2 separate regions of the Homo sapiens genome follow, and region 2 is linked to region 1. The links come from fine-mapping of genetic effects on gene expression. Tissue or cell type: Th17 cells. Region 1 holds a variant in brackets; the other region holds the start of a gene. All regions are shown on one strand. Distances are from middle to middle.

Region 1 (8,115 bases):
AATTATTGTAATTTTTAGCTCCCACAAATAAGTGAAAACATGTGAAGTTTGTCTTTCTGTGCCTGGCTTATTTTACTTAACATAATGACCTCCGGTTCCGTTCATGTTCTTGCAAATGACAGGATCTCATTCTTTTTTACGGCTGAATAGTACTCCATTGTGTCTATGTACCACATTTTCTTTATCCATTCATCTGATGATGGACACTTAGGTTGCTTCCCAATCTTGGCTATTTTGAATAGTGTTACGATAAACATAGGAGTAAAGATTTCTCTTTGATACACTGATTTCCTTTCTTTTGGGTTTATCCTAGGAGGGGGAATGCTGGATCATAAGGTAGCTCTATATTTAGGAAACTCCAAATTGTTTTGAGGAACCTCCAAATTGTTCTCCATTTTGGCTATATTAATTTACATTCCTACCAACAGTGTACAAGAGTTCCCTTTTCTCCACACCCTTGCCAGCATTTGTTATTACCTGACTTTTGGATGAAAGCCATTTTAACTGGAGTGAGATGATATCGCATTGTAGTTTTGATTTGCATTTCTCTGATGATCCATGATGTTGAACAGCTTTTCATATCCCTGTTGGCCATTTTTGTGTCTTCTTTTGAGAAATGTCTATTCAGATCTTTTGCCCATTTCTAATTGGATTATTAGACTAGTCCTATGAAGTTGTTTGAGTTGTTTATATAGTCTGATTTTAATCCTTTATCAGATGGATAGTTTGCAAATATTTTCTCCCATTTTGTGGGTTATCTCTTCAGTTTGTTGATTGTTTCCTTTGCTGTACAGAAGCTTTTTAACTCGATGTGATCCCATTTGTCCATTTTTGCTTTGGTTGCCTGTGCTTGTGGGTTATTACTCAAGAAATCTTTGCCCAGTCCAATGTCCTGGAGAGTTTCCCTAATGTTTTATTTTGGTAGTTTCATAGGTTGAGGTCTTAAATATAAGTCTTTAATCCATTTTGATTTTATTTTTTATATGGCAAGAGATAGGGAGATGGGGTCTAGTTTCATTCTTCTGCATATGGATATCCAGTTTTCCCAGACAATTTACTGAAGAGGCTGTCCTTTTCCCAGTGTATGTTCTTGGCACCTTTGTTGAAAACAAGTTTGCTGTAGATGTGTGGATTTATTCTAGGCTCTCTGTTCTGTTCCACTGATCTACATATCTGTTTTTATTCCAGTACCACGTCATTTTGTTTACAATAGCTCTGTACTATAATTTAAAGTCAGGTAATGTGTTTCTTCCAATTTTGTTCTATTTGCTCAGGATAGCTTTGGCTATTCTGGGTCTTTTGTGATTCCATATACATTTTAGGACTGTTTTTCTTCTATTTCTGTGAAGAACGTCCTTGATATTTTGATAGGGATTCCATTGAATCTGTAGATTGTTTTGGGTAGTATGGACATTTTAACAATATTAATTCTTCTAATCCATGAACATGGAATCTCTTTCTAGTTTTTGGTGTCCTCTTCAATTTCTTGCATTAGTGTTTTACAGTTTTTATTGTAGGTATCTTTGACTTCTTTGGTTAATTCCTAGGTATTTTATTTTATTTGTAGCTGTTATAAATGGGATTACTTTCTTGATTTCTTTTTCAGATTGTTTACTTTTGGCATTTACAAATGCTACTAATTTTTCTATGTTGATTTTGTATCTTGCAACTTTACTGAATTTATTTATGAGTTCTGATAGTTTTTTGGTCGAGTCTTTAGGTTTTTCTAAATATAAGATCATATCATCTGCAAACAAGGATATTTTGACTTATTCTTCTCCAATTTGTGTGCTCTTTATTTCTTTCTCTTGTCTGATTGTTCCAGCTAGGACTTCCAGTACTACGCTGAATAACAGTGGTGACAGTGGGCATCCTTGTCACGTTCCAGATCAAAAAGAAAGGCTTTCAGTTTTTCCCCATTGTGTATGGCACTAGTTGTTGGTCGGTCATATATGGTTTTTATCATGTTGGGGTATGCTCCTTCTATACCCAGATTTTTGAGGATTTTTATCATGAAGGGATGTTCGATTTTATCAACATCAATTGATATAATGACTTATTATTAATTGATTTATCAGCATCAATTGAAATGATCTCATGGTTTTTACACTTCATTCTGTTGATATGCTATATCACATTGATTGATTTGCATATGTTGAACCATTCTTGCATCACTAGAATGAAACCCACCTGGTCATGATGAATCATCTTTTTAATGTGTTGTTGAATTCAGTTTGCTATCTTGTTGAGGATTTTTGCAATTATATTCATCAGTGATATTGGCCCATAGTTTTCTTTTTCTGATGTGTCTTTGTCTGGTTCTAGTATTAGAGTAATATTGGCCTCGTAGAATAAGTTTGGAAGTATTCCCTCCTGTTCTACTTTTTGAAATAATTTGAGTAGGATTGGTAGTAGTTCTTTAAATGTTTGGTAGAATTCAGCAGTGAAGCCCCCGGGTTCCGGGCTTTCCTTTGCTGGGAGACTTTTTATTATGGCTTTGATCTTATTACTTGTTATTGGTCGGTTCAAATTTTGGATTTCTTCATTGTTCAATCTTGGTAGGCTGTACGTGTCTAGGAATTTATCCATTTCTTCTAGATTTTCCAATTTATTGGCATATCGTTGCTCACAGTAGCCACTAATGACCCTTTGAATTTCTGGGGTATCAGTTGTAATGTCTCCTTTTTCATCTCTGATTTAATTTATTTGGGTCCTCTCTTTTTTTCTTAGTCTGACAAAATGTTTGCCAATTTTGTTTATCTTTGCAAAAAAACACAACTTTTTGTTTCACTGATATTTTGTGCTGTTTTCTTCATTTTAAATTCATTTATTTATGCTCTGATATTTATTATTTTCTATCTTCTCCTAATTTTGGATTTTGTTTGCTCTTGCTTTTCTAGTTCTTTAACATCTATCATAAGGTTGTTTATTTAAAGTTCTTCTTTTTTGATATAGGCACTTATAGCTATAAACTTTCATCTTAGAACTGCTTTTCATATATATCACATATTTTGGCGTGTTGTGTTTCCATTATAATTTGTTTCAAGAAATTTTGAATTTTCCTTCTTAATCTCTTCATTGACCCACTGGTCATTCAGGAGCATGGTGTTTAATTTCCATGTGTTTGTATAGTTTCTAAGATTCCTCTTGTTATTGACTTCTAGTTTTATTCCATTGTGATCAGAGAAGATGCTTGATTTTATTTCAATGTTTTAAGACTTGTTTTATGACCTAACATATGGTCTCTCCTTGACAATGATCCATGTGCTGAGGAAAAGAATGTGTATTCTGTAGCTGTTAGTGGAAATGTTCTGTAAATATAAATTAGGTCCATTGGGTCTATAGTGCAGATTAAGTCCAATGTTTCTTTGCTGATTTTCTATCTAGAAGATCTGCCCAATGCTGAAAGTAGGGTGTTGAAGTCTCCAGCCATTATTATATTGGAGTCTATCTCTCCCTTTAGCTTTAAAAATATTCACTTTATATATCTGGGTGCTCCAGTGTTGATTGTACATATATTTATTTTTATTTCTATTTTTT[TC/C]TTTTTTTAATCTTATTTATTTTTATTTTTTATTTTTTATTTTTTTTAATTATTTTTTTATTTTTATTTTTTTCATTGATCATTCTTGGGTGTTTCTTGCAGAGGGGGATTTGGCAGGGTCACAGGACAACAGTGGAGGGAATGTCAGCATACAAACAAGTGAACAAAGGTCTCTGGTTTTCCTAGGCAGAGGACCCTGCGGCCCTCCGCAGTGTTTGTGTCCCTGGGTACTTGAGATTAGGGAGTGGTGATGACTCTTAACGAGCATGCTGCCTTCAAGCACCTGTTTAACAAAGCACATCTTGCACCGCCCTTAATCCATTTAACCCTGAGTGGACACAGCACATGTTTCAGAGAGCACAGGGTTGGGGGTAAGGTCATAGATCAACAGCATCCCAAGGCAGAAGAATTTTTCTTAGTACAGAACAAAATGAAGTCTCCCATGTCTACTTCTTTCTACACAGACACAGCAACAATCTGATTTCTCTATCTTTTCCCCACCTTTCCCCCTTTTCTATTCCACAAAACCGCCATCGTCATCATGGCCAGTTCTCAATGAGCTGTTGGTACACCTCCCAGATGGGGTGGTGGCCGGGAAGAGGGGCTCCTCACTTCCCAGAAGGGGCGGCCGGGCAGAGGCGCCCTCCACCTCCGGGACGGGGCAGCGGCCGGGCGGAGGCGCCCCCCACCTCCCTCCCGGACGGAGCGGCCGGCCGGGCGGGGGCCGACCCCCCACCTCCCTCCCGGACAGGGTGGCTGCCGGGCGGAGACGCTCCTCACTTCCCAGATGGGGTGGCAGCCGGGCGGAGGGGCTCCTCACTTCTCAGACGGGGCGGCCGGGCAGAGACGCTCCTCACCTCCCAGACGGGGTCGCCGCCGGGCAGAGGCGCTCCCCACATCTCAGACGATGGGCGGCCGGGCAGAGACGCTCCTCACTTCCTAGACGGAATGGTGGCCGGGAAGAGGCGCTCCTCACTTCCCAGACTGGGCAGCCGGGCAGAGGGACTCCTCTCATCCCAGACGATGGGTGGCCAGGCAGAGACGCTCCTCACTTCCCAGATGGGGTGGCAGCCGGGCAGAGGCTGCAATCTCGGCACTTTGGGAGGCCAAGGCAGGCGGCTGGGAGGTGGAGGTTGTAGCTAGCCGAGATCACGCCACTGCACTCCAGCCTGGGCAACATTGAGCACTGAGTGAACGAGACTCCGTCTGCAATTCCGGCACCTCGGGAGGCCGAGGCTGGCGGATCACTCGCGGTTAGGAGCTGGAGACCAGCCCAGCCAACACAGCGAAACCCCGTCTCCACCGAAAAAAGACGAAAACCAGTCAGGCGTGGTGGCGCCGCCTGCAATCGCAGGCACTCGGCAGGCTGAGGCAGGAGAATCAGGCAGGGAGGTTGCAGTGAGCTGAGATGGCAGCAGTACAGTCCAGCCTTGGCTCGGCATCAGAGGGAGACCGCGGAAAGAGAGGGAGAGGGAGAGGGAGAGGGAGAGGGAGAGGGCATATATTTAAAATTATTATATCCTCTTGCTGAATAGACCACTTTATCATTATATAATGACCTTCTTGGTTTCTTCTTATAGTTTTCATCTTGAAATTTATTTTGTCTGATGTAAGTATAGCTACTCCTGCTCTTTTTTGGTTTCCATTGGTATGGAATTTTTTCTGGCCCTTTGTCTTCAGTTTATGTGTGTCTTTACAGATGAAGTACGTTTCCTGTCAGCAACAGATCATTGGGTCTTTTTTTCCCCCCATTCAGTCACTCTGCATATTTTGATTGGCAAATTTGGCCCATTTACATTCAGTGTTGTTGTTGATAAGTAAGCCCTCACTCCTGTCATTTTATTGTTTGTTGTCTGGTTGTTTTGTGGTCTTCTCTTCCTTTTTTCCAGTCTTCCTTTTAGTGAAGGTGATTTTCTCTAGTGGTATGATTTAATTTCTTGTTTTTTATTTTTTATGTATTTGTTGTTTGTTTTTTGACTTGAGGTTACTATGAGGCTTGCAAATACTGTCCTATAACCCTTTATTTTAATGACTTAACTTTGTTTGCATAAACAAACAAACAGACAAGCAAAAGAAAACTAATAAAAATTCTACACCTTAACTTTGTCCTCCCACCTCGCTTTGTAGCTTTTTGTTGTTTCTACTTATATATTATTGTATTGTCTGTGTCTTTAAAATTTGTTGCAGTTATTATTTTTGATTAATCATTTAGTCTTTCTACTTGAGTAGTTTACTGTGATAATACTCTGTGTTTTTCTGTATACTTACTATTACCAGTGAGTTTTGTACCTTCAGATGACTTCTTATTGCTTATTAATATTCTTTTCTTTCTAATTGAAGTTCTCCATTTAATATTTCTTGCAGGACAGAGCTGGTGTTGATGAAATCCCTCAGCTTTTGTCTGGGAAAGTCTTTATTTGACTCTCATGTTTGAAGGATATTTGCACTGGATATACTATTCTAGGGTAAAGGCTTTTTTCGTTCAGCACTTTAAATATGTCATGCCACTCTCTCCTGGTTAGTAAGGTTTTCACTGAAAAGTCTACTGCCATCCGTGTTGGAGCTCCATATATTATTTGTCTCTTTTCTCTTGCTGCTTTTAGGATCCTTTCTTTATCCTTGACCTTTGGTAGTTTGATTATTAAACCCCTTGAGATAGTCTTCTTTGGATTAAATCTGCTTGGTGTTCTATAACCATCTTATAATTGGATATTGATATCTTTCTCTAGGTTTGGGAAGTTCTCTGTTATTATCCCTTTGAATAAACTTTCTACCCCCATCTCTCTCTTTCTCTACCTCCTCTGTAAAGGAGAAACTTTTAGATCTGCCCTTTTGAGGCTATTTTCTAGATCATGTAGGTGGGCTTCATTGCTTTTTATTGCTTTTTCTTTTGTCTCCTGTGACAAAATCTTCTTTCAAATAGTCTGTCAAGCTCACTAACTCTTTCTTCTGCTTGATCAATCTGATATTAAAAGACTCTGATGCATTCTTCAGTATGTCAATTGCATTTTCCAACTGTAGAATTTCTGCTTTATTTTTTATTTTATTTTATTTTATTTTTCAGATGGAGTCTCACTCTGTTGCCAGGCTGGAGTGCAGTGCCATCTCAGCTCACTGCAACCTCTGCCTCTCGGGTTCAAGTGATTCTCCTGTCTCAGCCTCCTGAGTAGCTTGGGCCTACAGGTGGGCGCCACCATGCCCAGTTAATTTTTACATTTTTAGTAAAGACAGGGTTTCATTATGTTGGCCAGGACGGTCTCAATCTCTTGACCTCTTGATCCACCCGCCTCGGCCTCCCAACGTGCTGGGATTACAGGCATGAGCTGCCGCATCTGGCCTTCTGCTTTATTTTTTAAAAATTACTAATCTCTTTGTTAAATTTATTTGATAACATTCTGAATCCCTTCTCTGTATTATCTTGAATTTCTCTGAGTTTCCTTAACACAGTTGTTTGGAATTCTCTGTCTGAAAGGTCACATATCTCTTTTTCTCCAGGATTTGTCCCTGGTGCTTTATTTAGTTTTACTGGATAGTCTTGATGCTTGTGGATGTTTGTCTGTGTCTGGGCACTGAAGAGTTAGGTATTTATTGTAGTCTTCATAGCCTGGGCTTGCTTGTACCAGTCCTTCTTGGAAAGGCTTTCCAGATATTCAAAAATACTTAGGTGTTGTGATCTAAGCCGTAGCTGCATTAGGGGGCACCTCTAGCCCAGAAATGGTCTGATTATTACAGACACGTAGAGGTACCACCTTGATGGTCTTGGATATGATCCAGAAGAATTCTCTAGATTATCAGGCAAAGACCCTTGTTTTCTCCCCTTATTTTCTTCCAAACAAATAAAGTCTCTCTCTGTTGTGAACTGCATGGAGCTTGGGGTGGGGTGACACAAGCACTCCTGTGGCCACCACCACTGGGACTGTGCTGGGTCAGACCTGAAGCCAGCACAGCACTGGGTCTCACCCAAGGCCTGCTGTAACCACTCCCTGACTACTGCCTATGTTCACTCAAAGCCCTGGAGCTCTACATTCAGTAGGTGGCAAAGCCAGCCAGACTTATGTACTTCCCTTTGGGGTGGCAGGTTCCCCCAGGCCGAGTAGGTCCAGAGGTTTTATCCTAGAATCAGGGAACTAGAGTAAAAAACCTTAGATGTCTACCTGGTGTTCTGTTGTACTGTGGTTGAGCTGGCACTCAAACCAGAAGACGCAGGTTTTCCCACTCTTCCCTCCCCTTTCCAAAGGCAGAGGAGTTCTCATCCTATGGCTACTGCCACCTTAAGCCCAGAGGGGAGTGCTGCCAGACTACTGCTGAAGTTCCCTTTAGGCCCAAGTGCTCTTCAGTCAGCTTGTGGTGAATGCTGCCTGGCCTGAGATACACCCTTCAAGGGAGTGGGCTCCCCTCTAGCCCAGGGCAGGTCCAGAAATGCTGTCTAATTGCCACGTCCTGGAATCGAGAACCACAAGAGCCCACTTTGTGCTCTATCCCACTGTGGCCGAGCTGCTACCTAAGGTGCGAGACAAAGTTCCCTTTGCTTTTCCCTTCACTTTTCTTGAGCAGAAGGAGTCTCTCCCCATAGT
Region 2 (8,115 bases), 350 kb before region 1:
GTACTAGTAGATCAAAATTAACTTTCTCGTATCTGAAATAATTTTTTTGCTAGATCAAAATAAATTTCTCCAGGGAAACAATGCATATTCAAATAGCCTAATTTCTAATAATGCAGGGGACCGAAAACAGTTAAAGGAGAAAGATTTGGTTCAGTTTTAATTATGACTTTCACTTGCTTATTATGGGATTTCTTTTTGGGACTTAACATTTTTATTTTAGATCCAACACTAACTGTCAATGCTTAACTAACATGACTGAAGAAGTTGATCTTACATTTATATTTCTATTCTTATTACAGAATGGATTTAATATGTTAAGATGTTGAACAGAACCATGAACTGCATTTCACAAAATGGTACATTTCATAAAATCTAAAATCCCAGCAAAATGATAGGGACAACAACTTAGCACGCTGTTAATTTTTCACTTAAGGGTGCCAAAATGATATTTCAGTCTTTTTTACATAGAAAGGTCAGATGTCATTCAGTGGCGCTCCTGAACACAGGCAAGTCATTTTCAGAGGTGAAAAAGCTGTGGTTGACTGCTCTTGAAACAGGTTTCTCTACAATCCACCTCTCATCTTTCTTCTCTTACCGAACCCACTCTGGTGTTCACGTCCTGCTATATGTAGGCAAGAGTATACCCATCCTACGCCTTTTAACTCTTTTGAGGGGCATACATAATTCAAGGACAATTAACTTGTTCTACAAATACCAGTTTAGGTGTCAATTTAGCATTCTGCAAATAAGGTATAATACTATAGAAATGGAAGGGGTGATTTCCCCAAGTAATAGGTCTCTTACTGAAAACATGCAAGCACGTTTGTGTCTGGCGTAGTGCTGTATTCTTCAAAGTCTTGAGCAGGGCCTGGTGCAGACTGTATACCCAACAAATATTTCTCTTATTAAAAAGTATAAAGTGAAAGCACAAAAGGGATGGTTAAGCAAGATAAGAAAGATGAGAGGTGGATTACAGACACACCTGTTTCAAGAGCAGTCAACCACAGCTTTTTCACCTACTGAAAATGACTGGCCTGTGTTCAAGAGCACCTCTGAATTACATTCAATCTTTCTATTTAAAAGAGACTGAAACATCATTTTGGTACTCTTAAGAATTTTTTTATTTAAATTTTTTATTTGTATAAATTTATGGGTACAAGTGTAATTTTTTTGCATGTATTGATTGCATAGTGGTCACCCTTTTAGTGTATCCATCACCCTAATAATGTACATTGTACCAATAAGGAATTTCTCATCATCCCTTCTCCTTCTCTCCAGTCTTCTGAGTCTCCACTATCATTCCAAACTCTATGTCCATATGTACACTTTATTTAGCTCTTGCTTATAAGTGAGACCATGATAATGGAAGAGAGATTGGTTAAGCTGACCTCCCAAAGTTCTCCCAACCCTAAGATTCTATGATTCTAGCAGGCTGGATCTCTTGTAGTGTTCTCAGAGAGAACAGCTACTAACCAGTGGTATCTGAAAACTTTAATCTTCTACTTCTGATGAGGTATTTTCTTTTCTTTGTTTCTTTTTTTTTTTGTTTTTTTTTGAGATGGAGTTTCGCTCTTTTCACCCAGGCTGTAGTGCAATGGCATGATCTTGGCTCACTGCAACCCCTGCCTCTCAGGTCCAAGCAATTCTCCTGCCTCAGCCTCCCAAGTAGCTGGGGTTACAGGTGTGCACCACCATGCCCTGCTAATTTGGTATTTTTAGTAGAGATGGGGTTTCACCATGTTGGCCAGGCTGGTCTCAAACTCCTGACCTCAAGAGATCTACCCGCCTCAGCCACCCAAAGTGCGGGGATTATAGGCATGAGTCACGGTGCCCGTCTGATAAGCTATTTTCAAATATAAATTATTGAATAATTATTTTAAAACTATTATTAGTATCTAGAATGTGCATTTTTCTTTTAACTGGTTCAAATGTCCACCAGAATTTTGTTAGTGATAGTGATATTTACATCTAGTTACAACAATGTATAACTAGCTTTACTTTTAATTGTGGTAGAGCAGCAACAGCCTCCTTTCTTTTTGCTTTGTTGATCATTCTATGAAAGCTGGGCAAACTCTTTACTCATCTATCTATCAAATACTTATTTTTTTAGAAGTCACTGAGATTAATAAAATTTATTTTTATTCTGCACCAGATAGTGCTTATATTATTGCATCAATATTAACTGCTATTTCCTATTAAAATTGTAAATCTACTATTTATAATTATTCTTTTGTGAAACTTTGATTAAAGATACTCCTTTGAGACTATTTTAGTAGTAGTAGGTACAGGGATATATGAATGCAGAAATATCATATAAACAACTTGCAAATAACGTAAGTCCTGTTTATATTAGACATACATAAAGGCCCTGTGAAACTTATCATTAAGGAATTTCAGAACAGTCATAGTGGGAAAAGCATGCGGGGAAGACTGCTGATAGCTAAACTGTGACAATAGAAAAGGTCGTATCATAAAATACTGTTAGTATATTTTTGTATGTTTATGCAATTGGTTGAAAATCAGGCAAATTTTTTATAATTTTTGATAAATATTTGACAAAGACTTCAAATATGTCTCTTGTAGTCACCATTGTAGAAATTTGTTTTGTTTAAATTCATTTGGCATTAACTTCCCGCCCCAAAATTCTACATCAATACATCTCTCTTCCTACTCTTCCCAACCCCTCCAAAAAATAACACCAAACTCAAAGCAAGTCACAAACGTTTTGCACAAATAAAGCCAGTTCTCCGTGGAATTAATGTGATAGGTCTTGAATATATTGTTGATAATTAACCCAATCAAGTAACATTGCCAGGAAATCTTTATTCTTTTCCTTTTTTAAAGGTTCATAAACTTTATTTCTTAGAGCAGTTTTAGGTTTACAGAAAAGTTGAACAGGAAGTACAGAGTTCCCATACACTCTCACTCCTGCCCCCTAACCACAGTTTCCTCTATTATTATTAACATAACGCATTGAGGTGGTACATTTGTTACAACTGATGAACTGATATTGATATATCATTAACTAAAGTCAATAGTCTACATTAGGGTTCACTCTTTCTGTTGTATAGTCCTGTGGGTTTTGTCAAATGCATAATGTTATGTATCCACCATTACAGGATAATACAGAACAGTTTCACTGCCCCCAAAATCTTCTGTGTTCCACCTATTTATCCCTCCCTCCAACTCTTACTTTTCTTTTTTAATACCCAAATTAAGCCACAGTAATATAAATTAGTTGGAGCTAAGAATTTGCCAGTGATTCCCCATGGCAATCAAACTTTCTTAATTATTAATCTAGACTAGCACTGTCCAAAAGAAATATAATGTGAGCCATTATGTATTTAAAAAACTCTAGAAGCTGCTTTAAAAGGAACAAGTAAAATTAATTTAATAATATTATACTTATCCCAATATATCCAAAATATCAATTTCAACATTCAGTCAACAGGAAAGCTGAGATATTTTACATTTCGGAGGTACTAATTCTTGAAATCCAGTGCGCATTTTACACTTACAGCACATCTAATTTCAGCCTAGCTACATACATTCCGAGTGTTCAATCAGTAGCCACAAGTAGCCAGTACCTGTCAGGTACAGCACAGATTTAGACTTTGAGCAACTTGAAAGCAGGTTATCCTCTTCTCTCCAGGGCCTCCAGAGTAGGCATGCAGTGAATATTTTTGAAAGGTAAATCAGAAAGATAAAAGGATCCTGATTCTTACAAAGATGTTCTGCAACTACTCTCTTTAAACTCTCCAGCCTCATAAAAAGTGGAATGGGGATCATGCTTATTCCTGCATATCAAACCAATGACTATGGGGCTTCCTGACTCCCAGAAAGCCTGAATCATCCGAAATGTTGACTCATGAACCTAAGGTGACTGAAATGTAACGTGAACCAAATTAGCTTTCCAAGGCATCTTTGTATTTCCACTTTCCTGTCTCCCCGCTGCCTCTCTCTTTGGGTGACTCACTCTCTTACCATGTAAGAGTCCAGCAGGCAAGGCCCCAAACTCTCTTTGGAAGAAGAGCAGACTTTCAAATGGTCGGCCCCAGATCCCTAGTTAATTCAGCACAGCTGTTTTCCTCCCAATTTCGGGGGCTGCGGTTTAGACTGAGTGAGCCTAACTGTCAAAAAACAATTTTTTTCTTATTTTAGGGTGGTAGTAGTAGTGATGTAGTTTGGAACTTTGAGTGAACAAATAATCTTTTATTTCAAAAATCTTTAAAAATCCTTAGGGCCCACTTCCCAGTCCCGCTAATACCTTTCTCCAGTCGGGTTTCTTCCTTTCCCGGGAGGAAAGTTTCCACTCTCAGTTCCCCCAGGATAACGCCCTTCCGGTGGCGCGCCAGAAACCGCGCCGACCCCTCCCAGCCAGCAGCCCGCCCCCTTTCCCAGTGCTCTAACGACATACGGACGCCAGCTGCGGGCAAGGCCAAGACCCCACCCCAACTCACGGTTACCCAAAGTGGGGGTGGAGCTCCCAGCTCTCAGCCCCGCCCATTGAACGCAATCCCAGCCGGTAAGAGAGAGGAAGTGCCGTAGTCCCCACCCACTTTCATCTCCTTCCCTTTCTGTTGGCCCGGCTGGTCGCCTATCTTCTCGATCCTGTAGCCGATTGGCTCTCTCCCTCCCGCGCCAGTCCCTGCCCTCCCCTGGGGAGGGTGAGTCACGCCAAACTGGGCGGAGAGTCCGCTGGCCTCACTCCTAGCTCATCTGGGCGGCGGCGGCAAGTGGGGACAGGGCGGGTGGCGCATCACCGGCGCGGAGGCAGGAGGAGCAGTCTCATTGTTCCGGGAGCCGTCACCACAGTAGGTCCCTCGGCTCAGTCGGCCCAGCCCCTCTCAGTCCTCCCCAACCCCCACAACCGCCCGCGGCTCTGAGACGCGGCCCCGGCGGCGGCGGCAGCAGCTGCAGCATCATCTCCACCCTCCAGCCATGGAAGACCTGGACCAGTCTCCTCTGGTCTCGTCCTCGGACAGCCCACCCCGGCCGCAGCCCGCGTTCAAGTACCAGTTCGTGAGGGAGCCCGAGGACGAGGAGGAAGAAGAGGAGGAGGAAGAGGAGGACGAGGACGAAGACCTGGAGGAGCTGGAGGTGCTGGAGAGGAAGCCCGCCGCCGGGCTGTCCGCGGCCCCAGTGCCCACCGCCCCTGCCGCCGGCGCGCCCCTGATGGACTTCGGAAATGACTTCGTGCCGCCGGCGCCCCGGGGACCCCTGCCGGCCGCTCCCCCCGTCGCCCCGGAGCGGCAGCCGTCTTGGGACCCGAGCCCGGTGTCGTCGACCGTGCCCGCGCCATCCCCGCTGTCTGCTGCCGCAGTCTCGCCCTCCAAGCTCCCTGAGGACGACGAGCCTCCGGCCCGGCCTCCCCCTCCTCCCCCGGCCAGCGTGAGCCCCCAGGCAGAGCCCGTGTGGACCCCGCCAGCCCCGGCTCCCGCCGCGCCCCCCTCCACCCCGGCCGCGCCCAAGCGCAGGGGCTCCTCGGGCTCAGTGGGTGAGTGCCGCGACCTCTCGCTTCGCGCCGCCCCTCGCGCCCCTCCCTCTTTTGTGTGCAGCCCCAGATGCTTTGGGCTGGTCCCTCCTCTCCGCCCCGAGGGCGCTTTGTCTGCGGACTTCGGGGCGATGGCGCCCCGTCTGGTTGGAAGCGCGGGGAGAAGGGTGGGGCGGCCCTTGGAGCCCGGGTTTGTTCTTATTGTCCGTCTTGGTTTCGGGGAACACGTGCACCGCTCCCGGCTCCCACTTTCACCCTGTGTGATGCCCAGCGTACGGATTCTCGGAAGTTAGGCACCCACCCGTAGTAGGAGCCGGGTATATACCCGAGAGCCAGGGTTGTGGATTTATCGGGTTGGTTGGGCTTCGAGGTGAGGAAGGAAAGGCCTTGGCACCCAGATATTTTTAGGAGGTGCTTTTGTCTACCCGTCTGGGTTGCTCCTTTGGAAAAGGTGCAGTTTTGCTGCGGGTCTGTTGGCCTGCATTCTGCCCCGGGCTCCCTCCTCACCTCCTGGCTGGCGTGGGTGGCCCCTTTGCGCTTCCCCTCCCCCTCCTCCTGTGCTCGTGGGGAGCTGGCCGAGTGGAAAACGTCCACATTGACCCAACCGCAGTGAAGGGAGAGCGCCTCCAGTGGTGTGGTGCGTGGAGAAATGGGAAGGAGAGAGTTCTGGTAAAGTCCTGCCACCGCCCAGCTCCCCGGGGTGTGATGTGGACTGCTCCCCACCAGCTAAACCGAGCCAGGGAAAGGGGATCTAGGCATTGTGTTCGAGGGGGCGTAGTTCTGCCGGGGTTTCAGCTGCAGGGTCGGAGGAATTGCTGTTAGTGTGGACTTGGCCCAGCCTCTTAGTGCATCATAATTGAATCTTACAGAAAAAAATAAAAGGCAAAATGGTTGACATTCCTAAAGAAGGGAAAACCTGTGGATTCCTTGCCAGGAATTGGCTAATTGAACTCGTGGCAGATTTACCATGAGACACAGAGAAATGTTTTGAGACAGACATTTTCATATATATTGGTTAGAAATACTGTTTTTCAGAAGGATATGTTTTAGGTTACAGAATCAAAATACGGTCACGTGCCTCATAACGACGTTTAGGTCAAGGACAGACCGCATTTGCAACGGTGGCTCCATAAGGTTGTAATGGAGCTGAAAAATTCCTGCCGCCTAGCGACGTCTTGATCTTGACCCTGTGTAGGCCTAGGGTAATGCGTTTGTATCTTAGTTTTTAACAAAAGTTAAAAAAAAAATAGAAAAAAGCTTATAGAATAAGAATATAAAATTTCTTTTCTATAGCTTTAAAATGTGTTTGTGTTTTAAGTTAAACGTTATTACAAAAGAGCCAAAAAGTTTATAAAATAGAAAAGATACAGTAAGCTAAGGTTGATTTATTATTGAAAAAATATATCTAAAGATAAATTTAGTGTAGCCTAACCGTAGAGTGTCTGTAAGTTGTACAGTAGTACATGGTAATGTCCTAGGCCTTCACATTCACTCACTACTCACGTCCACAGCAGCTTCCAGGCTGGCAAGCTCTGTTCATGGCCAGTGCCCTGCACACGTGTGCCATCTTTTAATCCTTTGTACAGTGTTATTTTAGGTATGTTTAGATAAACACTACACAAATACCATTGTGTTACAGTTGCCTACAGTAACATCCTGTATAGGTTAGTAGCCTAGGAGCAATTGATTATACCATATAGCCTACATATAGGTATGTAGTAGGCTCTACCATCTAGGTTTCTGTAAGTATACTGTGAGGTTTGCACAACGACAGAATTGCCTAACAATACATTTCTCAGATCCTGTTCCCCCTGTTCAGCGAGGCATGACTATGTATGGTCTGTAAAATAGTTTTCAAGTTCTTTCATTCACCTAAGTTCCTGATTGTATGTTATTATTAGTCACGTTGTTTTATTGCCGTTTTCATCTTGGGAAATTATTTTGGAAGCGAAAAAAATCACGTTTGTTAGAGATTGAGAATGCATAATATTAGATACATTCATAAGTACTTGCTACTTCGGGGACAGAAAGTGTCCCACTAGCAGTAGGACCTTTATGTATAAAAGGTCAAGAATCAAGTAGTGTAACTGCCTGCTTGGAAATCTTCATAGCCTTGTAGGATGTTAGAGGTGATTCATTTCTTAAAAGAAAATCAGTCTGATTTTTTTTTTTCTCAATTCACTTCTCCATAATGGGGGAAAATAAGCCAATTGCGATGCTTTTTAGTAATATTTTGATGTTGACGGACTCCTCACCCCCATACTACTCAAAACACTAATTGCCATATTAAAGGTCTTAGAAGATGAGGAGTAACTCAATCTTTTCCTTTTTCTTTATGAAAAAGACATACTTGAGGGAAACTGAGGTAAGAGAAAAATATGAAATATATTTTTAAACAGGAATTTTTTTTTTTTTTTTTTGAGATAGTCTCCCCCTTGTCACCAGGCTGGAGTGCAATGACGCAATCTTGGCTCACTGCAACCTCCGCCTCCCAGGTTCAAGTGATTCTCCTGCCTCAGCCTCCCGAGTAGCTGGGATTACAGGCGCCTGCCACCACGCCTGGCTAATTTTTGTATTTTTAGTAGAGACGGGATTTTACCATGTTGGCCAGGCTGGTGGTC

Alleles and levels. Positions count from the first base shown, and alleles are read on the strand shown. Sizes are in standard deviations (SD) of each study's normalised expression.
As copies of TC replace C in region 1, the expression in Th17 cells of the gene that starts at base 4,791 in region 2 goes down (large effect, 1.0 SD a copy in Schmiedel 2018).

The links. PIP is the estimated chance that this variant, and not a neighbour inherited with it, causes the effect.
Region 2: it holds the start of RTN4, and the variant in region 1 is fine-mapped to the expression of RTN4 in Th17 cells (Schmiedel 2018, PIP 0.95).

Annotation. Positions count from the first base shown.
Region 1 is chr2:54,695,309-54,703,423 of GRCh38, reverse strand. No RefSeq gene overlaps it. Among named protein-coding and RNA genes, the nearest start is that of SPTBN1-AS2, 19 kb to the right of the region's middle. RefSeq lists an enhancer at 4,279-4,994. The variant TC/C (reference allele first, on the strand shown) is at 3,541.
Region 2 is chr2:55,047,127-55,055,241 of GRCh38, reverse strand. RTN4 (reticulon 4) reads left to right here and starts at 4,791. Exons shown (of 9, transcript NM_020532.5): 1 at 4,791-5,497. The coding sequence starts at 4,942. RefSeq lists enhancers at 4,961-5,010, 4,973-5,785 and silencers at 5,151-5,210, 5,351-5,470.